4 linked regions of the Homo sapiens genome follow. The protein of the gene in region 1 interacts with the protein of each later gene in a pairwise test. Each region holds a gene or a part of one and is shown on either strand. Other genes may lie near its edges.

Region 1 (7,664 bases):
TGATGCTGGCCAGGGCCTGACGGGCCTTCTCCCACTCCGGGTTCTCGTGCATCGGCGTCTCCATGCCATTCTCTCGGCCTGCCCCAGCCACCATGCTGTACTGAGAAGACCTGCAGAGAGAGAGGACATCAAGTCACACCTGTTCTCCCCACTGTACACAGGTGGGCAAGTTGGGAGGCAAATTCCAGCCCCTGGATCCCATATCTAACTGTTACTACCAGTCTAAGCCTAAGTTTTCTAATCTGTACTATGCTGATAAAGGGTTTCTGCTTCAGAGTCTGCTGGGAGGGATAAATGAGATCACCTACTTAAGGTACTTATCCCAGAGCCTGGCACACAGCAGTTGTTAAAACCAAACAAACAAAACAATTAACAGAACCCACAGAACTGAACACAGGCCTTGGCACCTCCTAGGGCTATGTCTTTCATGAATCAATGAATTCTGTCTGACATCACCCCAGTCGGCAGGTTATCACACTATTTTGAGAAAAAATAAGGAATCAGCAGAAAAACAAATAAATGACTGTGTATTGAGTGTTGGGAAGCTGCCTCCTAATTACACTTGCTTGAATGAATCATCACAATTCTGCAAAGCAAGCGCTGTACTGTGAAAAACGAAAGCTCAGAGAGGTGAAAGCTTGCCCCTCTCCACACCACAACCAAATGCTTCCCTCTGTGTTTGCCTCACCACCACCCCCACCCACAGGGATTGTGGCATCACCTCCCCTAAGGCCACGGGAGGTCCCACCCCAGAGGACAGCACTGGGTCTTGCTTCCTCTTTCCCTCCCGACTGGCCTCCATCCCTCTCGCCTCACTAACCAATCTGTGCTACGTTGATCACCCACGTTGGCCGCCATCTGGACCTTGGGGTATAAGGGGTGGACCTCGGGAGCCAGACTGCTTTTTCACTGTCTATGAGAAAAAGAATGAGTTAGGGAGACTTAAGGGGGAGCTAAAAACACGTCACAAAGTGGGGAAGAAAAGTAGATGGACTCAAGAGAAGCCGGGCAGAAAAGGGGAGGCTGACTGAAAAGCCACTGGGGTCAAGGATCTGAAGAGTTCTGGGTGTGGACTAGAAAGGCTGGAGTGAGGGGAAGCCCCTGGCCCCTTTGTAGAGCTCCAGGTGGAAAACGAAGGATTTGGAAACAGGGAAGCCAGAGCAGACTTCCCAAAGGGAAGGAGAAGGGTCTGAAACCCATGTGAGCAAAGAGAGGCTGTGATGAAAGGTCCAGAGGGTAGGGGTGCCTCCATCAAGGGGAAAAGGTCTACAAAAAATTCTAGGGGCCAGGCGCGGTGGCTCACGCCTGTAATCCCAGCACTTTGAGAGGCCAAGGCGGGCAGGTCACCTGAGGTCGGGAGTTCGAGACCAGCCTAACCAACATGGAGTAACCACGTCTCTACTAAAAATACCAAATTAGCTGGGCATGGTGGCATATGCCTGTAATCCCAGCTACTAGGGAGGCCGAGGCAGGAGAATCGCTTGAACACGGGAGGCGGAGGGCGGTAAGCTGAGACTGCGCCATTGCTCTCCAGCCTGGGCAACAAGAGCGAAACTCTGTCTCAAAAAAAAAAAAAAAAAAAAAGCTAGGGAGTACGGGTTGTGAAAGGAACCTGAACCAAGAGGATGGATGCTATAATGAGAAGAGTCTGAGGGAACCCTTAAGGCTGAGAGGGTGGAAAGGTTTCCGAGAACTCTGTGAAAAGGGAGGCCTTTCAGGGAGCATCGAGGGGGCTGGAAGAATATTGGAGAAGAGAAGAAAATTTTGAGAGGAAAAGGGGATTTTCCGGAAGTTAACCCTGGAAGCAAGTGGTCGTTGAGCGTTCCTGAGAATGCCAACGTGAACCCCAACGTGAAGAAATGGGTTCTTAGCACTGACAGACTGATTTCAAAAAGGTCTCCGAAGGGCAGTAAAGAGACCTACGTGGGAGTCCTCAGTGGGACTACCCCTGCCTGCTTCCACGGGAGGTTCCCGGAAGCAGGGGTAGGGCTGGGAGAGAAAAGGGATCACCGTGGTTGGGTGTCTGGACATAAAGCTTTGGGAATGCCAAAGAAGACCCAAAACATGTTCAACGAATTAAGAGTGGGGTACAGAGAGAATTGGAAGAAAAGTGGAGTGTCTCCGGAGCAAGGATTCAGGAGCCTAAACTCCCGAGAGGGAGTAACTGATAAGTAGGATAATTAATCCCGCAGGAGAACCGGAATTCCCACGAGTTGACGGGATAGGAACGGGAGTCTGGAGCTGGGGAAAAGCCCTAGAAACGCAAAGGCTTAACTTAAACAGGACACAGGGCGTGGGTGGAGACGAGGGATCGTGGCGGGGACACAGGAAGAGGAGCCCCAGGGCAGAAGGGAGATTAGAGGTAAGGTCAGGAGTTGGGGGCTGGACAGAGGACTCCCGGACGGGTCTCAAGAACAGAGACAGGCATCAGACGCGAGGCCTGAGGTCCCGGGAGCACCTGGCCGTCCCGCAGGCTGGGCGAAGGCAAAGGAGGACGCCGGGTGGAGGAGGCCGCTCGGATCCCCACGACTAGCCACGGAGCCACTGCCCAGGCCGCGCCTGCGCACCACGCCCCAGAAAGACGCGCAGGAGCCGCCCGTCGCCCGGGGCAACACCCGGTCAACGGCGAGTGAGGGGCGCCCCGGGGCCCCGAGAACTCCAAGGGAGAGGAACGGAAATTAGAAGACGACGGCGCACGCGCGCTAGTGCCCGAACGCGCGGCCCCAGGCCCGGTGCGCAGGCGCAGTGGCTGCCCCTGCGCCGCCACACCCTGTCGACGCTCGCGCGCGGCGTCTGCTGCTGCGACGGCCGAGAAGGCCTCGGGGCTCGCGGGGCGCAAGACCAAAAGGAGATGCTATCCCCGCCCGCCTGCTCGCCTGCCGCTCCCCTTACCAACCAGGATCCTTCGCTGCAGGGACACGCCAACAACCACCCAGGCGATCAGCAACACGGCCACGACACCGCTGTGCCACCCGGCTGGCTCTGGTCTTCTTTGGCTTCGACGTCCTGACCGCGGCGTCCTGACGTCACGCGGCGGCCTTGCACCGCCTCCCTCGGCCCTGCACAGCCAATGAACGCCACGAGCTGCGCTTGAGCCCGCCTTCCTGCCCACGCACTTACGCATGAACATTTTAAGGCAGACCGGAAGTCTGGGTGGGGACGGTGGCCCCGAGGAGACAAGCGTGGCCGCATTAGCTCTTTCTGCCTCCCACGCAGCCTTATTTTTTTTATTGTTGTTTTCTTGTTGCTGTTGTTGTTGTTCTCGGAGACGGAGTCTTGCTCTTGCTCTGTCGTCGCCCACGATAGAGTACAGTGGCGTGATCTCTGCTCACTGCAACCTCCGCCTCCTGGGTTCAAACAATTCTGCCTCAGCCTCCGGAGTAGCTGGGATTACAGGCGCGCGCCACTATGCCCGGCTAATTTTTGTGTTTTTAGTAAAGACGGGGTTTCACCATGTCGGCCAGGCTGTTCTCGAACTCCTGACCTCGTGATCCCTCCGTCTCGGCTTCCCAAAGTGCTGGGATTACGGGCGTGAGCCACCGTGCCCGGCCGCAGCCTTGTTTTGACTGAGTCAGTGGGAGCCATTACTGTTCCTAAATGTAAACTGGCGTGACAGGAGTTCCGGGATTGTCCACAGCACGGTGATGTGGAAGCCCTGGGGAGAGAATGATAAAGAAAGGGGATGAGGAACAGCTCCACCCGGAAGAGCGGGCTTCCCTAGCAAATGAATCTGGAAGGGCGCAGGGGAGGGGGCACGGCGAGTTCAGATGGACCGAGGCTGGAAGCTGACGCGGTTGGAGGGGGATGGGTGTAGCTGTTGGCAGTGGCGCTGGGGTGGAAGTGTGTGGGGTCACAGATGTGTAAGGGTGGGCGCGGAGCAGACCCCCGAAGGTCCCTGAGGTCAGGCTGAGGCATTGGACCAAATCCGTACATAGGCATTTCTCTGAACTGCGCGCCACCTTTTGAGTGCCATCTGTTTCCGTCCAGGACTCTGATACAACTATCCAGTCCGCTGCAGGGACCGGTCACTGTGTCACAGTAAGTGGTGGGATTTAAGAGGCAGTTTTCCTCCTCATGTTCTACCATTATGAACGTCTAGCTTGAAAAATACATACCATTTTCATAACTACGTATTATTTTGTTAGTGCTAGCATAGTAGATCTTTTTCCGTTATTTTACTCTGTGGGGGGGGGGGGGTTTGTTTTGTTTTTGTTTTTGTTTTCTTTTTGGTACTAAGCTTTTTGTTCTGGAATAATTTTGGATTTATTCAAAACGTTGCAAAGACCGGGCGCGCTGGCTCACGCCTGTAATCCCAACACTTTGGGAGGCCGAGATGGGTGGATCACCTGGGGTCAGGAGTTCAAGATCAGCCTGGCCAACATGGTGAAGTCCCGTCTCTACTAAAAATACAGAAATTAGCTGGGCGTGGTGGCGCGTGCACCTGTAATCCCGGCTACTCGGGAGGCTGAGGCAGGAGAATCGCTTGAACCCAGGAGGCCAAGGTTGCAGTGAGCCGAGGTTACACCATTGCACTCCAGCCTGGGCAACAAGAGTGAAATTCTTGTCTCAAAAAAAAAAAAAAGAAAAGTTGCAAAGATCATAAGCAGTCCACCATGTTTTATGCCCACTTTCTTCTGATGCTGTCATCACAAGCACCAACAAAAGTGGTTTGTTGTAGATACTGACATGATGCATTACTGTAACTAAAACCCAGACTTTACTGGGATTTCACCACCTTTTCCTCCAATGTTTTCTTTACATGCCAGGGTACAAGCCAGGACCCACGTTCCATTTAGCTTCCTTTTACCTGTTGTATTTAGGGTGGGTTTCTTGTAGATAGCATGTAGTTGGATCTTGCTTTTTTTTGCCCAAGCGAACAGTCTCTGCCTTTTAAAAGAGGTGTTTATAACTGTACTTTTATTTTTTATGTCTTATTCTTTAGCATTCTGTACACAGATACAGCGATAAAATGAAATGACTGGAACTTAAATGTGAAAACTCTTTACAAGTAAGCCCACAATTAGATACATTTATCTTACATGTCAGGGAAAAAAATTATGTAAACAGGACAAATTATATCACAAAAGAATCCCAAAGTAGAAAAAATACCTAAGAAATGTGTCTAACCATGAAAAGTACTGTTCTCTTGGTGTCTTCACATCGTGTCTTCTGTGTACTTAAGTACAAAACATTGTTGCCTCTGATTAATGCACCCTGTACTTATTTTTCTGTTGTCCAGTTACATATTTGGTTGGTTCCAGGGCTATGTTCATGTAGCCATCCAGGCAAACCAGCACCCCTCCCTTAATCCACTTCAGAATTTTACCCCAACTGTCTGATGATGTGCTCTAAGAAGTCACTAGGGGATTGCTTTTCTTAAAAAATCTATTATTATTATTATTTTTTGAGACGGCTCTGTCGCCCAGGCTGGAGTGCAGTAGCACGATCTCAGCTCACTGCAACCTTTGCCTCCCAGGTTCAAGCAATTCTCTTTACAGGCGTGCACCACCACACCCAGCTAATTTTTGTATTTTTAGTGAAGACAGGGTTTCACAGTATCTGGAATTCCGGACCTCAGGTGACCCGCCCGCCTCTGCCTCCCAAAGTGCCGGGATTACAGGCATGAGCCACTGCGCCTGGCCAGTAGGGGGTTGCTTCTGAAAACTTATTTTAATAATCTTGGGTAGGCCAGGCGCGGTGGCTCATGCGTGTGATCCTAGCACTTTGGGAGGCCGAGGCGTGTGGATCACCTGAGGTCAGGAGTTCAAGACCAGCCTGGCCAACATGGCGAAACCCCGTCTCTACTAAAAATACAGAAAAATTAGCCGGGCATGGTGGCGCATGCCTGTAATCCCAGTTACTCATGAGGCTGAGGCAGGAGAATCGCTAGAACCCTGGGGGTGGAGGTTGCAGTGAGCCCAGATCATGCCATTGCACTCCAGCCTGGGAGACAGAGCGAAACTCTGTTTCAAAAAATAATAATCTTGGGGGGCAGGAAACCTAAGTCATAATCCCGGCTCTTTTACTTAACCAGCCGTATGACTTGGAAAACTCGTTTCCCTTCTCTCGGCTCCAGATTCCTCATCTTGCAGCTGGGATCCAGAGCTCTCACTCCAGGAGCCCAGTCACAGCAAAAACCAAAACTGTACTTTTTTTTTTTTTTTGAGACAGGGTTTCTCATTCTGTCACCCAGGCTGGAGTGCAATGATGTGATCTCTGTCTCAGCCCACAGCAGCTTCAACCTCCCAGGCTCAAGTGATCCTCCTGCCTCAGCTACGCAGTGTATGGTATTTTGTTACAACAACCAGAATGTAGTAAGACATTTATTGAAGGATATCTTGGTTCCTTCCAAGTTTTTGGCAGTGATAAAGAAAGCTGCCATAAACGTGCACGTGCAGATTTCTTTGTGGGCAGAAGTTTTCAACCCATCTGTGTAAATACTGGGGAGCAGTGTTGCTGGTTCATATTCTAAGAGTATGTTTAGGATTATGAGAGACCACCACACTGTCCTCCAAAGTAGCTGTACCATTCTGCATTGCCAGCACCAATGAAGAAGGGTTTCTGTTGCTCCACATTTCTGCCAGCATTTGGTGGTGCCAGCATTTTGGATTTGGCATTCTAATAGGTATGTAGTGGTGTCTTGTTTTTTTTTTGTTTTTTTGAGACAGAGTCTCACTCTGTCTTCCAGGCTAGAGTGCAGTGGCATGGTCTCGGCTCACTGCAACCTCCGCCTCCTGGGTTCAAGCGATTCTCCTGCCTCAGCCTCCCGAGTAGCTGGGACTACAGGCGTGCGCCACCACGCCCAGCTAATTTTTGTATTTTTAGTAGAAACGGGGTTTCACCATGTTGGCCAGGATGATCTCGATCTCTTGACCTCGTGATCCACCTGCCTTGGCCTTCCAAAGTGCTGGGATTACAGGTGTGAGCCCCCGCGCCCGGCCAGTGGTGTCTTGTTTTAACGGACGGTTCCCTAATGACATACGGTGAACATCTTTTCCTGTGTTTATTTGCCATCTGTATTAGGGTTCTCCAGAGGGCCAGAACTAACAGGATATATGTATATATTGAAAGGGAGTATATTAGGGAGAACTGGCTGACAGGATCATCAGGCAAAGTCCCACTATAGTCCATCTGCAAGCTGAGGAAGGAAGAAGCCAGTCACGTCTCAAAGTCCAAAAGCCTCAAAAGTAGGGAAGCCAACGGCGCAGCCTTCAGTCTGTGGCGGAAGGCCTAAGAGTCCCCGACAAACCACTGGTGGAAGTTCAAGAGTCCAAAGGCCAAAGAACCTGGAGTCTAATCTCCAAAGACAGGAAGTATCCAGCACAGGAGAAAGATGAAAGCCAGAAGACTCAGCAAGCCAGCCCCTCCCACCTTCTGCGCTGACTGGATGGTGCCCACCCACACTGAGAGTGGGTCTCCCTCTCCCCGTCCACTCACTCAAGTGTCAGCCTCCCTGGCAACACCCTCACAGACACACCCAGAAACAATCCTTTTTTTTTTTTTTTTTTTTTTTTTTTTTTTTTTTTTTTTTGAGACCGAGTCTCACTCTGTCACCCAGGTTGGAGTGCAGTGGCACCATCTCGGCTCACTCCAACCTCCGCCTCCCGGGTTCAAGCAATTCTTCTGCCTCAGCCTCCCGAGTAGCTGGGACTACAGGCACGTGC
Region 2 (7,021 bases), on another chromosome or scaffold:
TAAAAAACACATTATGATGGGCATGGTGGCTCATGCATGTAATCCCAGCACTTGGGAGGCTGAGGTTGGGTGGATCACCTGAGGTCAGGAGTTCGAGACCAGCCTGACCAACATGGAGAAACTCCGTCTCTACTAAAAATACAAAATTTAGCTGGGCATGGTGGTACATGCCTGTAATCCCAGCTACTCAGGAGGCTGAGGCAGGAGAATCACTTGAACCCAGGAGGCGGAGGTTGCAGTGAGCCAAGACTGCGCCATTGCACTCCAGCCTGGGTAACAAGAGTCAAACTCCATCTCAAAAACAAACAAACAAACAAAAAACAAAACAAAAAAATTTACATAGGTCATACACCTAATAATCCCAGCACCTTAGGAGCCCAAGACAGGAGGATCACAGGAGTTTGAGACCAGCCTGGGCAACATAGGGAGACCTGATCTGTACAAAAAAATAAAAAACTAGCCAGGCATGGTGGCATGTGCCTGTGGTCCCAGCTGAAGTGGGTGGATTTTCTGAGCCCAGAAGGTTGAGGTTTCAGTGAGCCATGATCACACTACTGCACCCCAGCCTGGGCAACAGAGCAAGACCTTGTCAAAAAACAAAAACAAAAACAAACAAACAAAACCCACATAACAAATTTACATCTTAACCATTTTTAAGTGTACAGTTCAGTAGTTAAGTCTCCATATTGCTGTAAAAGAGATCTCCAGGACTTCTTCATCTTGCAAATCTGAAACTCCCTCCCCTCTTTTCTCCCCACAACCCCTGGTAACCACCATTCTACTTTATGTTTCTATAAATCTGACTACTTTATATGTCTCATAAAAGTAGAATCATACAGTATTTGTCTTTTTGTGATTGGCTTATTTCACTTAGCATAATGTCCTCCAGGTTCATCCATACTGTGGCATGTGACAGGATTTCCTTGCTTTTTAAGGCTGAAAAATATTCCATCATAAATATATACCATGTTTTGTTTATCTATTCATTTCATTAATAGACCCTTGGGTTGCTTCTACCTCTTGAATACTGTGAATAGTGCTATGAATATTTCTGTGCAAATATCTCTTCAAGACCCTGCTTTTAATTTTTTGGACATATACCCAGAAGTGGGTTGCCAGATTATGTAGTAGTTTTAATATTTATTTTTTGGAGGAAACTCCATACTGTTTTCCATAATGGTTATATAATTTTACAATTTATAAGCCACATTTTTTTCTTTGTAGTCTCTTTCTTTTTTTCTTTTTCTTTTTTTTTTTTTCAGACAGGGTCTCACTCTTGTCACCCAGGCTGGAGTACACTACTGGCACAATCACACAATCATGGCTCACTGCAGCTTCAACCTCCCAGGTTCAGGTGATCCTCCCACCTCAGCATCCCAGGTATTTGGGACTATAGGTGCACACAACCACACCCAGCTAATTTTTTTGTTGTTGTTGTATTTTTTTAGAGACAGAGTTACACCATGTTGCACAGGCCGGTCTCAAACTCCTGGGTTCAAGAGATCCACTCACCTTGGCCTCCCAAAGTGGTGGGATTACAGGCATGACCCACCATGCCTGGCCTCTTTGTAGTTTCAATGGCTAGAAATATAAGCCACATTTTTAATATCAGCTGTGGTATAATAAGAATTATATTTGATCTTTGTTCCTAGTTCTTGGCACAGAGCTCCTACAACTCTTGTAATTTCCTGAGTGATAAAAGTATCTTTTGTAATTCATAGGAACACCCAATTTTATGCTAATAAGCTGACTTAGGGTAGGGCCCCTGGGTGGCCTCAGGATGGGGTTGGTCACTAGAAAGACCAAGTGATGAGGGGGTTAGGACTTTCAGCCCCACCCACTGACCTCTTGGGAGGGGAAGGTGGGGGCTGGAGATGAAGCTCTAAAAACTCTTGAACAAGGATGTTCTGAGGGCATCTGTGATGGTGACACAGGGAGGTGCTGAAAGGATGGTGCACCCGCAGAGAGCACGGAAGCCCCTATGCATCTCTTCCAGTTGGCTGTTCCTGAGTTGTGTCCATTGTGATAAACTGGTAAACACAAGTCAAATGTGTTCCTGATTTCTCTGAGCAATTCTAGCAAACTGTTGAACCTGAGGAGGAGGTCGTGGGAACCCCCAATTTATAGCTGGTTGATCAGAAGGTGGTCTGGGACTAGCATCTGGTGTCTGAAGTGGCAGCAGTTCTGTGGGACTAAGCCCTTACCCTGAGGGGTCTATACTAACTCTGGGTAGTTACTATCAGAACTGAATTGAATTCTTGGACACCCAGTTGGGGTCTGGAGAATCAGAGAATTTGTTGTTGGGGTCAGAAAACACTCCATCAACTTTTATCAGAAATAAAGATAATAGAATTTTATCAGAAATAAAGATAATGTGGATACCCCTCTATGGCAGATTCTATTTTCCAAAGATGGCCACAGTACTGTCTCCCTCCCCATATGTGTATCCTATTTAGGGAAAAGGAATCAGGCTGGCGGAACCAGGATAAAGCAAAGAGATAAAGCAGTAAGCTATAGGTCTGCCTTTGTTCATGGCCCAGGACATACAGCCCTCCTGTGCAGATAACATACAAAACTCACAAACTTCTGCTTAACATCAAATGCTTCGATTTATCATCAAACACCTCGGCTGACAGAAGAATGCAAGTTAGCTCCCTGCTACCTTGGTGTTATCAAGTAGCCCAAGAACCATCCTATAAAATCTCTGGCAAGCCTTTGTTTCCTGGCAGTCAGCTCCTCTCTTGCTGGCTGCCCATTGCTTTCTTGCACTGAGTTTTCCTACTTTCTCTAATAAATCTGCCTTTCTTTACCTACAACTGTCTTGGTAAATTCTTTTACCCCTGCACCACTGACCCAGATAGTCACTGCTCACCCACATTTTGGTAGCCTGTATGGGAAACTCTCTCCTTATGAGGAAGCCTCTGGCCTCTCTCTTTCCCTTTCCCAACTTAGGAACCTCAGTGGACAGTATCTACCCAGAGAGACAATTGTAGGTCTCTAGCTGGAGCTACCTACACTCCTGTGGGACTGAAAGGTATCCGTGTGGAAGCATCTAACTACCACCTGTTCAGGTGAGGGACCTGAGTTTACTTTCTCTTTTCAGCCTTTCAGCAGCTGGCTTTTAGTATCTCTTTGGCAACTGACAGTAACCAGCTGTGGCTACTATCCGGTGTTGCCTGAAGGCCAAATAGCCACCTGGCCTGGAAGAGAGGAAGGCTTCCTCCTATACTCTCTGGTCAGAAGTCCCTAATCCCTACGTGTGATGCGACTGGCAGCAGAAGCTCATTCAGAGCAAATTCACACATTTTGGGTGACTCAGACACTCTTTCTCACTCTGAATCCTCCTGTGGAGTCAGCCAGCCATTCTGTCCCAGATGTTGCTAAATCAGGTGATCTCAGACAGCCTCAGAACCATGAGTTTTCCCTTACCCACCCCCTCTCCTGGGCCAACACAGGCAGAGTCCTCCCTTCACCCATTTTCCTTGTACCTGGACTGGCCATCCAGCATAAGGCCCCTGAGTGGCCGAGGGGACTTTCTTAATAGGTGGGACACCCCTTTAGAAAGTGCACCCCAAGTTCCTCAGTAGACCTAAGTGGAACTGCTTTTCATCTCGGCTGGACATCCTGAGAGAAAGTGCAGTTTGTGCCCCTGAGTTGCACCATCCCCAAGCAGCATGTTTTCTAGTCCCACCATGGGACAAACCCCATCTATTCCTTCAGACTCACTTCTGGGTTGTATCCTAAAACATTAAGACAAATTTAACTCTCAAACCCTCAAAAAGAAATGTCTAATTTATTGTGTAACACAGCATGGCCCCTATGTAGAAAACCATCAAATTAGCCTCCTGAGTCCTTTACAACTGACAGCAGAATAAGGAGGACAGGGCTAAGAAGAAAGAAAAATGCAGAGGCAAGAGACAGGCTCAACTGTTGGCTGCTTTACAAGCCCCAGCCCCTCCAGGTTTCCCTAAAAATACATTCCTTCAGATAACTGCCATCAGTGCAAAACGCCAGGTTACTGAAAGGCAGAGTGCCCCAGTGGAATAAATTTTAAAAGCCCTGCCTGGCTTACTCTCTCTGCCACAAGCTCAGCCACTGGAAAAAAGACTGCCCTGATGATCAAAGGGCCCCCAGGACAGAATCTCAACCCCTAATGGCCTTATGCTAAATAGGCTCTCTGCTCTGTCTGGAAACAGCTCACCTTAACTGATAACTTGCAAAGTTGGGAAGAATTTATCCCACACCTTGTAGGTCTGGGGTGCTAATGCTCTCCCTGGCGGGAGATAAACAAAAGTGGCAGGGGTACTGACCTTGCACTGTGCAGTGGCTGGAAGGCTCACAAGCCCTCCTGTAAAGCCTGACCTTTTCCTCTCCATTCCTTCCTTTTCTTTTTCTCTTTTTCTGTTCAATCCAGGGGTCCAGCCTTAAAAGGGAAAGACAGTTTCTAACATCCTAACCCCTGATTTTGTCATTCTCTTTAAAACTCCAGCTGGTTACATATTATGGTACATTTTAAACTAACGGGCAAACTACAACAAGAAAAAGTCAGAGCTCAAATGGTTAACCTGCACTATAAAGTTAAGTGAAGTCTTCTATAGCTCTCTATCTTCCTTTTTTTCTGCCTGCTTTAAATCTGCTGTTACTAAGGTCCTGGTGCTGAGATAAAACTCATTCTTTGTGGTCTAATTAGAATGCAAACATCGAAAACTCATTTAAAGTTAAAGAAAAAAAGGTAAAAGAGGTTTTGTTCAAACAACCCAGAATTTTTAAACCTCCCTTAAAAATAAAAAATAAATAAATAAATCCAACACCTCCTTTAGACCTTACTCTTAAGGCTGACTCTTTTTATCCAATTCTACTACAGGCTTTCAGTAATTATCCAACTGCCTCACTTAAGCAGCGTCACCCTCTTAATATTGATGCTTTTATAAGGGAGGTAGTTTACGACTGCTATTTGCAAGCGGACTTCCAAGATTACCACCCAGATGAATTTTTTTGTATATTTGTCCTAGTAATGTCATTTACCCCCACACCACATCAGTGTGCTAAGGTACTAGGTGTTTGGTTAACTGTTTTTCTCATATTCTTTACAGCCCTTCTTCTCGCCTGTCTCCCTGAGTTTACTACATATTGTCATTTTCCTTAAAAATGGCTTTGTTTTTATTCTATCACGGCTATTGCCTCCATGGCTGGAGCCAGGCACTTACTCCTCCCAGTAATATTTCAGGTTGCTAACATAACACACAGCACTAACTTCTGGATATGCCCATGCGGACAGGCACTCAAAGATAACATTATATCCTAGCAGTCCCGCTATCCATAGAAGAAATTACTAACAAGCCTGATACTCTGGATTCAACTACACCATTTACACACACACCAAAAACACAGGTTTAGGAGGGGAGCCTAGGCCAATTGATTCCTCATGGCAATCATCCACTGTGACGGAGCAGATTGGGAAGGCACCAGAGATGGCCTGTAAGGTTCACCTCTGCATCAGAAAATCCGAGGGATCTGGCCCTTTTATAGGCACTTGTAAGGCTCACCTCTGCATCAGAAACTCCAAAGGGTCTGGCCCTTTCCTAGGGTGTTTAACATAAGCCCATTGTAATTACACCCTCAACTATAATCAAACACACCAGGAATGGAAGCTATATGACAACAATGACAAGTTCACTGTGTACCTCTGCAGGTTTTCTCTATGGTGGGGAAACAACAAAGTTAATGCCAGCAAAATTTATAGTGATCCTTTTATGCCTATAAACAGTTCAGCTACTGGGATAGAATATATAGGAATAGGGGTTGAGATTGGACAACTTCTCAACCTCACTAATACATCTACAACTTTCTCTTGATTTTCCGTTATCTCATTAATGTTTAAAACTCTTATCTGCCAGGCCCCACATTCATATAACACAAGTAAAACTTTCCTCCCTTATGCATGAATGACTACTTTCTAGGTCACCACCCAGCCACATTTGATCCCTGGGGACCATGGGATCCCTCTATTTATGCAAATTATACTGGAATCCAAACTAACCACACCTATGCCTGGTTACAAGGTCCCTCCTCAGGAGTTTCTTTAAAAGGAACTGGGCTCTTCTTTTTGTGTGGATCCAACATTTTTCCAGCCTTGCCTATTAAATGGAGAGGACGTGCACTATAGTTGCAGCAATACCTGGAGTACATATATATAACTCCTTAGACTTTATAACCTCTGGCCAAGTTCCAAATTTGTGATCCTTCCTAAGTTGGGCCCTTCAAAGGCCATCAGAAGAAAGGAAACAGAAACGGGATTTAATCAACCTTCCATCATTTGGCATCCTCACCACTGATGATCTCATTATAGAGAGGAATGGTCTAGGACATTCTGTTGCCCATGCAGTCTTTTGGTTTGCAGGTATACCCATGCTTGAGTGCAGCATTTGTAATATCACCATCTTAGTCCAGCAATCTTGAGAAGCTAAAGTCATGGCCATCAAGGCCCAATAACAGGTCCTAAATTCATTGGCAGGGGTTGTCTTGCAAAACTGATGTGCTGTGGATGTGCTTAACGCTGAGGCAGGAGGCACCTGCATGCTGTTAAATGAAACTTGTTGCTCTTACATCAATACCTCAGGTCAGGTAGCAAAAAACTTTAGAAAAGATAAAAGAAGACATCAAAGTATTAGAGGGCCCTCAAAAAGGAGTTCCTGAAGATTCCTTTCTGGCACAGCTATTTCAAAGCTTCTCCAGCTGGGTTTGGCTATGGGTTGCCCTACTTCTCCCATCTATAATAAAGCTCATATTGGCTGGGTGCGGTGGCTCACACCTGTAATCCCAGCACTTTGGGAGGCTGAGGCAGGTGGATCACCTAAGGTCAGGAGTTTGAGACCAGCCTGGCCAATATGGTGAAACCCTGTCTCTACTAAAAATTACAAAAATTAGCTGGGCGTGGTGGCATGCGCCTGTAACCCCAGCTACTTGGGAGGCTGAGGCAGGAGAATCACTTGAACCTGGGGAGGCAGAGGTTGCAGTGAGC
Region 3 (7,871 bases), on another chromosome or scaffold:
AGCATTTAAGGATGACACTTTCTCAGCGGAAACTACTGTCCTCCCCTTTCCACCCAAGTGGTGCTGACTCCAAAAGGGGTGCAGGTAGAAGGGAAATACAGGGAATTATATCAATTTATTTGAAAACAGCATATCCTCTCAATGGCACTAAAATACTGAGTTTATAAGAAAAATATATAGATTATATAGATTTTCATAGGCTGATAATGCCAAGAACCAATGGAGACCTCAAATTAAACACTTTCTGTGCATGAATTTTGGCAAAGAATATTTCAGAAATAATGGCAAAAAACTTAAATATTCAATGTCATAAATACAGTCATCAGTGTTTTGTCAACAACAAAATGCACTTGTATATGTAAGCAAAGGCTGGTCCTGAGACTTATAACAGGCCTTCCCTTTGGTAACATCAAAATCAACATAAAACAGAGTTGGGCAACCTAACAGAATAGAAATAAGTACCTCTGAAGACAGAAAGAAAGAAAGATGACTGTATCGTGGTCTCGTTACTGGCTGCTTTAAAAAACTAGTGGATTAAAAAGTTGTGAGAGGGAATAGAAAATTAGGAACTGCTTCTCAGAGGCACAGGCCAACCAAGAAAATGTGGTGTTGGCATTACATATATTAGGTCTACCACTGTTTAAATTTTCTTAAAAACACTGAAGAGCATTTTATAAATTACTGGATTAAATAACCTGAAGAAAAAAGAAGGAATGAGGCCTGAAGACACGTCCAATTCACTGAAGAACTGGGGCAGCCAAGAGCTTGAAAAACTAAAATTAAACACAACGGACTGTATCAGCCACAGCTTGGGCAGACCGATGGGCCCTGAATTTCTACGTTCTTTAAAATCAGGATATTATTGCAGCTCAGGGTTTAGTTTTGGAAAGATACCAGATAAATCTCAAGCAACAGTGTGAAAGAAAGGCAGAGTTCAGGCAACATTTATATAAGATCAGATGAACCCCTGATATTCCTTCCAGGTCTTGAATACAATCTGTGAAAATTCAGAGTTCAGGGGTAGAGAGTAGATTGTGAGGATTAATGAAAATGAATATTAGGTTTGATTTTCACATTAGAAAAGGGAGGTCATAATTACATTAAATGTTGGCAAATGTGAAACAGGTGTTAAAACCCAGTCTCAATTCAATAATTTGGGAGTTTATAAAATTCAATGTTGTCAACTCCAAGAGGCAAGAATAATTTTGTTTGTCTCAGTGTGCTAAGATATGACAACATAAGTAAAAGTTCACTATTTCATACTGTTGATACAAGTAAAAAACTGGTACCATAAAAATGTATACTTATGAAATGCACAAATTGTTAAATAGCTCTTCGGGGACTTTTCTTCAGGATATGAAAAAGGAGGGGGCAGAGTTGCTCTTTCCCTGGTAGATAAGCATACAAGTTATGTTCAGGCATAGGCCTTTGGGATGACCAAAGTAATCAGGAGGAAAAAGTCCTCAGATATAGCACTTTGTCATTTTGAAACTTCAAATTACAGTTAAAAAACAGGTTTCAGACTTTTTTTGAGGTAACTTGAGCTCCTGCAATCAACAACCTTCTTCACCCCATAATGTAAATGAGTATCGAAAAAAAGGAAACAAAGTAAGCCCCGTCACACGGACAGTAAGAGAAATTCTGAACTCCAGGTCTGTTCCAGGATGAGAGCCATGTCCAAGATTCTGCATTCTCTTCTTCCAACCACTCCTTTCAAGAACTCAAAATGCCAGTCAGTGCAGGTAAAGGAAGATGCACATCCGCCGGTTGCCAATTTCTGAAATTTTCTTGTTACTTCTACGATACAGACAAGTGATGCCTTCTCAACTTCGTCCAGGTTTCTTCCAATCTCCGAACACGGTGACTCCGAATCCTCTTGCCACTCCCTTCTCCAGGGACCTACCTAGGCAGCACTCCCAGCCCCTGCCAGCTCTGGAAGCTGCAGAGATCCCGACAGTCGGGGATGGGGATTGAATCCTCTCATTGCAGTGCAATTAAGCGGAACCACGACCACCGCACAGATTGGCTGACAACACACATTCCATAAGACCAGCAATCGAATTTTGAGAAGCCTTGTCCAATCAACAGGCTTTATTTGGGATTCAGTTTTTTACTTTGTTCTATTAGGAGGAAATATAATCAGCCACCAGCTTAGCCCTCCAAAAGAGGGGACAGAGATGTTTCTCCGCTTTTGCACGCTATAAAGTGAATCTACAAGTAGTAGTTGGTGGAGGGAAAATGGGCCTGCATGGAGAAGGCGCCCACCACGAAGGCACGGCCAAGCCGGGTTGCACGCAAGAAACACACAAAATACCAGGTGATTTACACAAACAGCCCCCAGGACCACCATTTTTGTGGTCCCCAAGGCAAACCAGTGGGATTCTCCCGGCAGTTTTGCGGCAACAGCTAGCTCAACAAAGCTCTGTGAAGAGGAAAAGAAGAAAGCTCCTCGTACTTTCTCCTGCCAGCCGCAGCCCCAGCCCTCCCGTGGCCGCGGCCACGAGCCCTTTCCCCCTGACAGCCCGAGGGACCCCCGCATCGCGGGTTCCGAGCCGCACAGCTCGACCTGAACCCGGGTTCCCGCGTCTCCGGCGGCCTCACGGCGCCCCCGAGGGCGGAGACGGCCCGGGCAGGGGGAGGGGCGGCCCGGGTCCGCAGGCCCCCGGGGCGGCCGCACGCCCCCTCCCGGCCCCGCAGCTTTCCCGCCTTCCCCGTTTGAACAGCTCCCGCCCGCCCTCCTCCTTCTGCCCGCTCCAGCCCCTTCCTGGGGGCGGCTGCGGCCGCTACTCCAGTCCCCGGCTCGGCCCCTGGGCTAGGCCGCGAAGGGCCTGGGGCACCCCAGAGGTGATGTCGCGGGCCCAGGGCGGCGGGTGGCGACGGGGCGGGGCTGCTGCCGCCTCAGGGTGGGGGCCCAGCCCGGTCTCCTGGGGTCTCCGCTCGCCGCTACCTTCACTCGGCTCGCCCGGATCCCGCCTCAACGCCGCCGATCGCCGCCATCTTGGAGAAGGAGAGAAAAGCGCGAGCGGCCAGGGAGCCTCAGTCGAGCCCAGAGCGCAGACTCGGGCTCCGGAGGGGGAATCCCGCTCGACCAAGAGCGCCGAGCGCATCGAATAAAACTCGGAGCCTGCTGAGCGCGGGAGCTGGCACTTATTTATTGAGAATTTGCTATGTCCCAGCCTTGCCCTAGAAGCTTACAAACATTATTTCACTTAATCCTCACTGTATTCCTGTCGCATTTTGCAGAAGAGAACCAGGCTGAGAGAAGTTAAGTGACGTGCCCAAGGATACACAGGTAGTTGGAATGTGAGACCGAGTATTACTCCAAGTCTTCTGATTCTGAATGCAGTGCTTTCCCCAAAATACTATGCTGTTTCTTTCAAGATATTGTTATACAGCAGTTCTCCTCTTTGCAACACCTAGATCTATGCAGATTAATAGCAGTGTGCTTATTTGGACTTCAGCATCTACATTTGAACATTTGGCATATTAGGGGTGAGGTGAAGAACTTATCTTTGTAACAATGTACAGTAAAATAATTTGCATGGCGAATCATCTACATTTTTTAGTTAGAAACAGTCTTCAGAGAGAGAGAGGAAGAGATGTCATATACAGGCGAGAACACAATTTTTCTGATTTGCCATTGAGAACTTCGACCAATGAGTAGAAATTACAGTGTATAGAACTTGGTTTGATATGAAGAAGAACGCCAGGGGCGGTGGCTCACGCCTGTAATCCCAGCACTTTGGGAGGCTGAGGTGGGTGGATCACCTGAGGTCAGGAGTTCGAGACCAGCCTGACCAATGTGGTGAAACCCCGTCTCTACTAAAAATACAAAAAATTAGCCAGGCGTGGTGGCGCGTGCCTGTAATCCCAGCTACTTAGGAGGCTGAGGCAGGAGAATCGCTTGAACCCGGGAGGCGGAGATTGCAGTGAGCCGAGATTGCGCCACTGCACTCCAGCCTGGGGGACAGAGTGAGACTCCATCTCAAAAAATATATATATATATGAAGAATAACTTATTTTTCTAGTACAGTTCAGTAGTACAATGGGCTTCCTTGTGAGTAGTGAGCTCCCTCCCACTGGAGGAGCGCTCAAGCAGAAGCTGGTGTTACTGTAAAGCAGAGAAGTTAGAGATGTAGATTGGCTTCTAGAGTTGTGAACCCCATGCAACGTAAAATCATGTGTGCAGTGTGTGTTTTCCTAGGGCCCAGGCCCCATAAAAAATTAAGAACCTCTGTCCTAGTGTATTTTCCATTGCAGAGTTGGGTGAGTGCTTGAAGACGAGGTAGTCATGAGACCAATAAAAGCAAGGTGATTTGTCTGAGACCACACTCTAATCAGTGATCAGATAAAGATGAAAAGCCAGATTGTTAGACTCTGGTTCAGTGCTCTTTTTGCTATATCATGCTCTCTCCCCCTCTGCACTGAGTAGAAGATTGATTCTGTTTCTTACAACTGTGAGATGCTGAGATGTTAAAACACCTGAGATAAAGTTGCTGAAATCATTTGCAAAATGTAACTGCAAATACTTAATAAAAGTAGCATGGCCTTTTTCTCCGCAGCTCCCATCCTACTCACCAAAAAGACAGGCAATGAGTTTCACCAAAAGGTGTTAGATTGCATTTCTGGGACACCCTGCCTGACGTTAGGCTTCCCTTTGAGGCATTTAAGAGCCCTAATGATGTATTTCCTTTTTGTTCTTCAGAGCCCTAAATCCATTGGTCAGGATGATTTCAGTTGTGACAGAAACCCATTTCCATGTGTTTCCCCAGAAGAGGGGAATTTATTGGCTCACATGATTGAAATTTCCAGTACCTGCAGACATGGTCACTTCCAGGGAGGTAACTCAAGCTGGTCCTTTGACGTGTCTGTGGTGCTCTCCTCTGTTAGCTTTATTCTCAGATTCAGGTGATGACTCCAGCAGCTCCAAGCTTCATCATCTTTCCTGCTAGCAGTGTCCCTGTGGAGGGAGGTTTTGTTTGTTTGTTTTGAGACAGGGTCTTTCTCTGTCACCCAGGCTGGAGTGCAGTGGCACGATCACAGCTCACTGCAGCTTCGACCCCCTGAGTTCAAGCAATCCTCCCACCTCAGCCCCCCAAGTAGCTGGGACCACAGGTGCATGCCACCATGCCCAGGTACTTTTTGTATTTTTTGTAGAGATGGGTTTTTTTTGTTGTTTTTTTTTTACCATGTTGCCCAGGCTGGTCTCAAGCTCCTGGACTCAAGCAATCCTCCTGCCTTGGCCTCCCAGAGTGCTGGGATTACAGATGTGAGCCACCATGCCTGGCCCTGGAAGGAGTTTCTTTTTCCCTTTTGCTTTGGCAAAAGTCATGGGATTGATTCTTATTGCCTGAATTAGATCATGTGTCCAGACAAAAAGCAATCACTATGAGTAAAGGTGTGGAGTCTGCTGCTGCTGCTGATTGGTTAAATTAGGTCATCTGCTTACCTCCAAAATTAGGTTGGGGTAGACACAAAGAAAATCAAGGGTTGCTGTCAGAAGGGTGAGTGCATGTTAGGTAGGCAAAAACAGTAGCTGTCCCCACACTCTACCACTAGCTTGGACCTAAAAGCCTTATGAGTCCTATTGGTCCCATTTCTTCTTTTAGTCCACCTGAAGATGGAGCATATCAAGTTCTTGCTCATTTTAAGCTCCTGGAGACCTGAAGTCAGATCTCTCCTCAGCCTACTCACTCAATCACAAAATGCTATTAACTTGCTCCCAGTCTTGGATCATTGCACTTCCATTTATTAAACAGATATTTATTGAAAACACAGCATGTGGCAGGTACTGTCTTAAGTGTTGGGAATAGAACAGTGAACAGAATTGAGAGTCCTTGGCCCCCAGGAGCTTACATTCCGGTTGGGTTGGGGGACACAAAATTAAGATATGAATACTACATTCAGTGATAATCAGAGGTGGAGAAAATAATGCCAGGTTGGCTACGAGAGTACCAGCAGGGGATGTGGGTAGGAACAGCTTGTTCTTTAAAACAGTAATCAGGGAGGCTTCTCTGTTGAGGTGCACACCGGAGCTAGCTCAGCCAGAAGTGGGTTGGTGGTGGGAGCCAGGAGATCATAGTTCCTTGAATGTATTCAAGTGCTTCCTCTGTACCTTGCTGGAAAAGTATTCTTTGCTGACTATCTTTCATAGTTCTCTTGCATTTTTGAAACTTGGAAAGACAGAAAAGAGGACCCTCTGGGCAGGCCTAGTCATGGTGGGGTTTGTGAATAAGAATGCCTTTTCCCATGGCAAGTGAGGATAGCATCTAGCATATGTGAAGAGGGGGCACTCCCTAAGTGTGGGGCAGTTCTCTGGTCCACCTGATCTAAGGAAAACTGCCTGGTGCCTGGCAGCAACAGGTGGGGCCTGTCAAATTGTGCTTGGTTTGGACATCTCTTTCTTCAGGCCACTTTTCTGTGCTCTTCTCTTTCCAGATGTGTTTTGAGCAGCGTCTTTGTCTTCGGTCTGATGGGAGGATGCCATCCTGGGTACATACATTAGGCCAGGGCCTTTTGCTAGAAGTGACAGGACCTAATTAAAACTACCTTAAGAGACAGGCAGAGGGACATACCACAGATTCTCAGTCTGTGTGTATGCCCTAAATTGCAAAATTAAAAAAATAAAGAGACCAGTAGAAAATATGTAACTCATGTAAAAAACAAAACAAAACAAAAACTACTCAGAGCCAGAGAGAAGCAGGCCCTCTGGACAGCTGGGTCCGGGGATTCAAATCCTTCCCTCTTAACTCTGTTCTCTCAGGCTGGCAGTCCCTAGGGGCCTGGAATCATGGCCACAGGTAGCCCAGGCTTACATCTTTATAGTCTCCTGACCAGAGAGGAAAGAGCATGTTCCCACATCAGCAACACACATACACACACACACACGCGCGCGCGCGCGCGCACAAAATCCAAGAGAAGAACTCCAATTGGCTGGGATGGGGTCATGTGATCATTCAGTATTGTGATAGTTCCTGGGATACCACAAAGTTGCAATAGGACATTAGTCCTTCTATAAAAGAAAGGGGATCTATTCTGGGAAGACAAATAATAAATGTCCCCTATGGTGAAGCAATGATACTTGTTTTCCTGCTTTTGAGCAACTTATTATCTTCTGTGTGTATGTGTGTTTTGTGGGCAATGTAAAACAAGTCTAAGTCCATAATTACTATGGTACAAATGTAAAAGAAAAATGTGCCCCAATAGATGGGCCATCTCTCATTGGGCTATTACAATAGCTTCCTAATGGATTTTTATCTTCAGGGCCCCTTCCCCACTTCGAAGTCCATCCGCCATTGCTGTCAGGATAAAGCACTGCTAACATGAGCTTATACTTCAGCTAATGACTTTTTTCTTTTTTTTTTTTTTTTTTGAGATGGAGTTTTGCTCTTGTCGCCCAGGCTGGAGTGCAGTGGCATGACCTCGGCTCACTGCAACCTCCGCCTCCCGGATTCAAGCGATTCTCCTGCCTCAGCCTCCCAAGTAGCTGGGATTACAGGTATGTGCCACCACACCCAGCTAATTTTTGTGTTTTTAGTAGAGATGGGGTTTCACATGTTGGCCAGCTGGTCTTGAACTTCTGATCTCAGGTGATCCGCCTGCCTCAGCCTCCCGAGCTGGGATTACAGGCGCGTGCCATCATGCCCAGCTAATTTCTGTATTTTTAGTAGAGATGGGGTTTCTCCATGTTGGTCAGGCTGGTCTCGAACTCTTGACCTCATGATCCACCCGCCTTGGCCTCCCAAAGTGCTGGGATTACAGGCGTGAGCCACTACGCCTGGCCACATTTTCTTGTCTCTAATGGGTCCCCCACACTCCACCACTTTTGCCAGCTCATGCATCTAGCTAGCAACATGCAGCTAGAAAGCTCC
Region 4 (7,021 bases), on another chromosome or scaffold:
GGGTTCAGGACGGCGTCTGACACACGAGAGTGGTCACCAATGCCACCCACACATCTCCCTACCAGAGCACAGTCCCTACGGGAAGACCCTGGTCCCCACAAGGAAGGCCCCTGTCCTCATAGGGATGAATACCTTGGGCAGGATGTCCTGTCCTGAGAGACAGGACATCAGTCTAGGGACCCCAAGAAGGAGCAGCCAGTGTGGCAGCAAGGGCCCCGGGCCTGGTGGGGGAGAGGGCTCTAAGGAGAAGAGCAGTCATCTCTGCCCACGCTGCTGACAGATCAAGTCAGACAAGGACAAGAAGTGACTGAGCAAGGGGGGTCACTGATGGCCTAGACGAGCCGCTTTGGTGGAATAACATGGCAGAGGCCTGAGAGCAAAGGACGGAGGACGAGAGAAGGGGATGACAGACGCCCCTTTCTGGGAGTTCTGTTGGAAAAGCTGGCAGAGAAACAGATGATGCCTGATGGGAACGTTCTGATAGAGGGGAAACAATGGGGGTGCTGGGGCCCTGTCCCTGAGGGCCTGGCGGAGGGGACCACAGGCTGGCAGCGCTGACTCCTAACTCGCCCCCAGCAACAGCGACAGGGCCCAGCAGCAGGTGTGCCCGGCTCATCACAAACCCCTGTGGGACTGGGAAGTGAGGTTGGGGTCCAGACTCTGCCTGCAGTGCCCCCCAGGATGGAGACCCAGGCTGGGCTGCTCCTGCCCAGAGGCACCTCACTTCAGGACAGCAGGCACCATGCCACCTCGGTGGCAGGACACTGTCACAGCCTCTCTGGTCCTCGGGCTTCCTAGAGTCACAGATTTCTTCCCACTTCCATGTGAGGTGTTTCTTTGTCTCCCCCAAATGGAGCAGGAAAACAGCAGCGCAAGCACCCATGTCCGCCCACGCAGAGGCGAGGGCTCTGACCACACCCTATGGACGGTTTCCTCACGGGCCCAGTGGGAAGGTGGGATCTGTGCTCCCACCTGTACTCTGCCCTACATGCCACAGAGGCTTCTAGGATGGGCGAGGTCCTTCAGTCCCCTTGTCTGATCATCTCACTGTTCAGAAGGGGAAACTGACACCCAGAAAGAAAAATGAGACCTGCCCATGTCACAAGAAGAGTCTGTGGCAGACCTGGGTCTTGGCCCATCCCCCCATTGATACTGAGCCCCCAAGCCTCCTGCCTGTCTATCTTCTCCAGGACAGGAGCTCCCAGTGCCTCAGACTGCAGAGTCTACCCCACGTGGATGGAAGACAGTGAGGCTGGCCAGCTGCACGTGGAGGATGTGACGTCTCTTCTCAGTCTTTGACCACAAACATCCCAGAGGCACCCCCAGCTCAGTGTGCCCCAGAGACTCTATCCCCCAACCTAGGCTCTGCCCACTCTGTTCCCTGCCTACCTACAAAGGGCCTACGCTGGGGCAGAGCCCCTTCCACACCCTGCTGGGTCTCCTGGGCCTTTGCTCATGCTGTTCCCTCTGCCCGGAGCCCCTTCCCCTAATGCCCTCCTCATCCTTCCCCACTCAGGACCCCCCCGCCAGTCCCCACCCCCAGTATTTCCTTGTCCAAGAGGGACTGGCACATCATGGTTTCTGTCCTGGGTCTGCCTTCCCTCCAGTGCGTGCGCTCCAGGTGGGCAGGGTCTACTCCCAGCGTCCAGAACACTGAGCCCCAAACGGACCGCCTGAGATCCTAGCAGGGCCAGGATGGGGTCGCACAGGAAGGAGAGGTCGCCCTGCAGGCGCAGGCTGGGAGGCACGGGTGAGATAGGGCAGGCCAGGATGGAGTCGCACAGGAAGGAGAGGTCGCCCTGCAGGTGCAGGCTGGGAGGCATGGGTGAGACGGGGCAGGGGCTGCACTCACACTCGCTGCTGACCAGGCGCTCCAGCATGCGCCTCTGCTTCTGCAGGGACTTGGGCACGGGGCCTGGCTGCGCCCCTCCATCTGCAGGGGACAGGGTGGATTAACAGTCAGACAAGTTGACTATCTCCTCGTGCCCTGCAGCCCACCAGAAACTGGCGCACTGTTCCTAGGGCACGCCAGTTCCAGGGGCATCCTACGTTCTGGGGATCATAGGGCCCCCAGGGCAGGCAGAGCAGGGGCCACACCTCTGTACCTCCAGTAGCTGGGGTGGACTCAGCACCACGTAGCGTGCTCCCACTTGGTGATGGACACAGTCCGTCCCATTGGTAGACGTGGTCACAGAGCACTGGGCAGAATACCCTCTGGTTTATTCAATGAGTGAGCACTTGAGCCAGGGCAGATGCTGTCAAAATGCCACCCACACACCTCACCACTAGGGCACGGTCTCTACAGGAAGGTTCTGGTCCCCTGGTCCCCACAAGGAAGGGCCCTGTCCTCACAGGGAAGGTCCCGGCTCCTGTGGGAAGACCCAGCCCCTGAGGGAAGGTCCCAGCCCCTATGGGAAGGTCCTGGCTCCTGTGGGAAGGCTGGCGCCCAGGGAAGGCTGGTGCCCAGGGTGAATCCTCGCACCGTGCTCGTTGACCTGGCCGACATTCTCCAGCAGCTCCGCCACGGCCACCTGCTTCTTCTTCTTGGGGTTGAGCTTCCAGTACATGACCAGGGCTGCCTTGCGCACGGCCCTCTCCAGGTCGGTCTCGGAGGAGAGCTGCCTCACCTCCCGTTCGTTCTCGGACGTGATGCCTGAGGGATAGGATGTGGTCAAAGGCCTTGTGTGCCCTGCCTAGGCTTTCGGTGCCACTCTGACCCTGCCAACTCTGCCTGGAAGGCTTTCGAGCGAGACTCATAGAAGGTGTCAGGACTTGGTTACCAGGGAAGGATGCATGGACATCTGACTCAAGAGGACATCGCGCCACGCCCACTCTCCAGCTGGGAGGCCAGACTGGTCTCCCACCAGACGCCCCCAAGTGCCCCCTACATGCTGGCGGGAAGAAGGCAGCCTCTTCCTGTTCCTCCCCTCTCTCAGAGGTGCAGACCCGGAGGCACAGGCCTGTGTTCTGGCTCACTCAAGGTCACACAGTCAGAAAGAGGCAGAGCTGTCTTGAACCCAGGGTGGACTCACTGCAGTCACCAGCCTGGGTGCACTGGCAGGGCCACCCCTGTGTCTACAGAGCTTTCCTCTGTCTCACACACAGCCCAGCCCTTTCTAAGGAAGGCTTGGACAGCGGGGAGAGGGAGAGCAGGTTTTACCGCTGGTCAGCAGCTGCCTTCCTCCCTTTACCCCCAACGGCCTGGGACACTGGCACAACCAAGCAGAGGGCAGGAGGACTGGCACGGGGGTCTGGATGTTTTTCTCCTTTTGAACATTTCCAAAATTTTCCACATGAGCATGTATTTCTTTTCAAATCAGAAAGCACAACTGCACATCAGAAGGTGTGTGCAGCTGGGGGAACACGGGGCCAACCGGCCTCCTCCCTTGCACGCTCTGCCCCAGCAGCCTCTGGGCTATCCCTGGCACCCAACAATGAGCCGTGTGGGCCGCCTGAGCCCCCTCCAGGTCATTCCAACTGCTCTGGAATCAGCAGGCTGGGTTGGTGAGAAATTCTGGCTAACAATGCCACTGTTAGTTTTTCAAAATCATCAGTTTAATTTTCAAAGAGAAGACTCTGTATAATAAATGTAACTCTTAAAATATGATACAAGCTGGGCATGGTGGCTCACGCCTGTACTCTCATCACTTTGGGAGGCCAAGGAGGGTGGATCCCCTGAGGTCAGGAGTTTGTGACCAGCCTGGCCAACCTGATGAAACCCTGTCTCTGCTAAAAATACAAAAATTAGCTAGGTGTGGTAATGCACGCCTGTAATCTCAGCTACTCAAAAGGCTGAGGCAGGAGAATTGCTTGAACCAGGGAGGTGGAGGTTACAGTGACTTGAGATCGCACCCCTGCACTCTAGCCTGGGCGACAGAGTGAGACTCCATCTCAAAACAACAACAACAAACACAGAAGGAAATACACCAAAATATGGGGAGTTGCTTCTGGGCTTCAAGGTTATGAGTAATTTGTATCTTTATGTTTTCTACATAGTCCAAGTTTTCTATGATAAGCATAAAATACTCTTACAATCTGAAAAAAAAGGTATCATTAGAAAAAACACCTTTGTGACACCCACTTTCATCTTTCCCTGAGGCGTGGAACCTTCAGGAAGCACACTGCCCCACGGCACCAGGGACAGCCACTTCCCTTGCGCAGGACAACGTCCTAACTCACCACCCCTGGCCTGAGCTGCGTCCCTTTCCTCCCCTGCCTCTCTGTTTGAAAGAGATTATCTATGAAGGGTCAGCCTGCCTCCTCCCAAAGTGAACATGCTTGTCCAGGTCTGTGTGGGCCCACAGCCCCTCAGCTGGTCTGCCCAGACTCGACGGACATCAGCTCAGGGGCATGGGCCACTCTGACTGCAGGCCACATTACAGTCTCCAGCTTTGCCTCAGGGAAACTGCCTCTCAGCTGAACCCAGGATCGATGTCTCAGTTTGGATCAGAACCCAGCAGGGAAGCAGGATGTATAGTTACCACTTGGAGATACCAACACAAGCCAAAGAGAATGAAAATGGCTTGGTCTGTTAAATATCCCATGTTAAGTCCAGAAACAGTGTCTAAAATGAGAAGGCCACCAGCAAAACAGAAACTGAAATTTCCCAACAGCATCACCAGCGTTAGGTTTGGTAAGATTTTAGTTGTTCAGTTAGCAAGCAGCATTACAAGCTGCTCAACCCTCCAGAGGCTGTTCTAAGCCTCACACAGACCCACCTCTTCTGTCCGCCAAGCACCGGCGAAGCAGCTTCACAGCCTCGCGACGGCCCTGCTTCGCGGCGAGGACCAGCCAGTCCACAGCGGTGCAGCTGTTGAGTTCTTCATCCGTGTCGCCGGCCAACTGCAGGTAGTGCTTCCCCACCTGCAAGCCAGACACCAGTCAGCCTCCAGATTCTCCGACCCTCTCCCACCCCATGCTCCCTGCCAGCCCACCTCCTTTCACCCACTTCCCTTTGTCACCCAGGCCAGGAAGGAAGGGGCAGAAATGGGGTCACACCAGGCATGTCCACTAGGCTAGGCCCTACTGAGCCTCCGGCCACTCGCTCCTCAAAACACGGTGAGGAAGGTGTGGCCACCCCATCCACACGGCGAGGGAGACACGGGCTCCGACTGGTACTGGTACAGGTTCTCTTCCTTGAGTTGCTCCTGCCTGCCAAGGCTCACCATCAATGCATGGAAATCAGAACCATGACTGGGTCCTTTACACCTCTCAAAACAGTCAGGGGACCATAGAAAGCCAGGGCTGGAGAGACGCCAGCTAACCAAGGGTTAGCACTGGCCCACTGCCTGTTTTTGCAAATAAAGTTTTATTGAAATACAACCATAACCATTCATTTACATGTTGTCCATGCTGCTTTTACGTGCTCCACAGCAAAGCTGAGCAACACGGCAGAGATTGCGCAGAGTCCAGAATATTCACTATCTGGCCCTTTGCAAAAAGAATCCCTGCTGAAATGGTCCAGTCTTCTCATTCTACAGATGGAAAAAGTGAGGCCCAGGGCACAGAGAGCCCATAAAAGGGCTTACTATGCTCCCCCCGCCTCCAAATGCCTGGGCAAAAGGATGTGGGAGGAACTTTAAAGTACAATATGGCTGTGAGGTCAGGAAAGAAATTTTTTTTTTTTTTTTTTTGAGACAGAGTCTTGCTCTGTTGCTCAGTTGGGAGCGTGGTGGTGCGATCTCGGCTCACTGCAACCTCCACTTCCTGGGTTCAAGTGATTTTCCTGTCTCAGCCTCCCAAGTAGCTGGGATTACAGGCATGCACCACCATGTCTGGCTAATTTTTCTATTTGTAGTGGAGACACGGTTTCATCATGTTGGCCAGGCTGGTCACGAACTCCTGACCTCAGGTGATCCACCCGCCTCAGCCTCCCAAAGTGCTGGGATTACAGGCGTGAGCCACCGCTCCCAGCCAGAAATTCTTAATTTATGGTTTCGCGTGGAAGCTTTTCTCCTCTTTAGGGAGAAGAGGGGGCAGGAAACTGCTCAGGATAACTGTGGTCACTTGCTTGAGCCCTGTGCAAGGGGACAGAGTGAGGTGGTGAGAACTTGCCTCCACAGAGGACACAGGACCCCCTGCCACCTCCCGTCTCAGCGTTCTGCTGGCTTCTCCCCTCACCAGAATTCAAAATCACTGTATTTCTGTGTCTTGTCTACTTGGGTTTTTTGGGTCTGCTTCTTCCACTAACCTGTCACCCATGAAGAGAGGGCCACATCATGTCCCCAGCACTGGCACAAAGCCCAGCCCTTGGCTGATGCCCAAGTGAATGGTCACCGCTCTGAGGGCCCCGTGCACACAGCTAACAGCCAGGTGAAAGGCCAGTCAGGGAGACAAGAGTGGGCAGCATACACAGTGTATGTTGAGGGGTGGCACTGAGCAGGCAGCTGCAGGAAGCCAGGAGGTCATCCTGGAGGAGGTGATGCCCAAGATGAGGTGTGAGTTGGACAAAAGGGGGATGAGCGCTGCTCCCCAGAGGAGTGCCAGGAGGAAAACTGGCACAGTGAACATGGGCACCCTACCAACATGGGGCTCAAGTGGGGTAGGGTGCACCACGCTGGCTCCTGACCCCGATCTCAGGCACCGACACTTCTCTGTGGGCTGTGGAGCTCGTGGCCAGGCCTGTTGTGCCGGGGGCCGCGTCCCGAAGTCCCTGCCGGCACCGCAGTCCTCACCTCAGTCTGTGCCTTGGGGTCCCCGGCCTTGGCCCTCTCCAGGACTTCTTCAAAGGGGATTTCCATGTCTCCCTTTGTAGGCCCTTTAACACAGAAGAAACAAACACACATGTCACAAAGCCAGACTTTGTCACTTGTCAGGATGGAGGGGACAAGGCATGAGGGTCTTCAGATCTGCTGCTGCTTGTCACTTTCAAATCCAGGCCAGGAGTACAGAGAGACACAGACACAGACAGGGAAGATGCCCAGAAAGCCACTGTTTGCCTTCCGGTCACAAGCAGCGCCAGAGCAAGATGAGCAAACTCTATGCGGGTGAGGTGGTTCAACAGCAACTCAAAGCGCTCGGG

What was found.
Region 2: the proteins of LENG8 (region 1) and CFAP53 interact in binary tests that used the Homo sapiens proteins (3 or more experiments, as listed by UniProt).
Region 3: the proteins of LENG8 (region 1) and HMGXB4 interact in binary tests that used the Homo sapiens proteins (3 or more experiments, as listed by UniProt).
Region 4: the proteins of LENG8 (region 1) and WFS1 interact in binary tests that used the Homo sapiens proteins (3 or more experiments, as listed by UniProt).

What each region holds. Positions count from the first base shown.
Region 1 is NC_000019.10:54,444,539-54,452,202, reverse strand, and holds the start of LENG8 (leukocyte receptor cluster member 8), read right to left. Parts: upstream 3,005-7,664; 5' UTR 2,893-3,004; intron 2,547-2,892; exon of another isoform or gene 2,459-2,546; intron 914-2,458; 5' UTR 859-913; coding exon 821-858; intron 111-820; coding exon 1-110.
Region 2 is NC_000018.10:50,228,495-50,235,515, forward strand, and holds part of CFAP53 (cilia- and flagella-associated protein 53), read right to left. Parts: intron 1-7,021. UniProt on the Homo sapiens protein: Microtubule inner protein (MIP) part of the dynein-decorated doublet microtubules (DMTs) in cilia axoneme, which is required for motile cilia beating.
Region 3 is NC_000022.11:35,252,634-35,260,504, reverse strand, and holds the start of HMGXB4 (HMG domain-containing protein 4), read right to left. Parts: upstream 3,013-7,871; 5' UTR 2,948-3,012; intron 2,318-2,947; exon of another isoform or gene 1-2,317. UniProt on the Homo sapiens protein: Negatively regulates Wnt/beta-catenin signaling during development.
Region 4 is NC_000004.12:6,286,829-6,293,849, reverse strand, and holds part of WFS1 (wolframin), read right to left. Parts: intron 6,758-7,021; coding exon 6,675-6,757; intron 4,864-6,674; coding exon 4,719-4,863; intron 2,654-4,718; coding exon 2,483-2,653; intron 1,934-2,482; coding exon 1,853-1,933; intron 1-1,852. UniProt on the Homo sapiens protein: Participates in the regulation of cellular Ca(2+) homeostasis, at least partly, by modulating the filling state of the endoplasmic reticulum Ca(2+) store.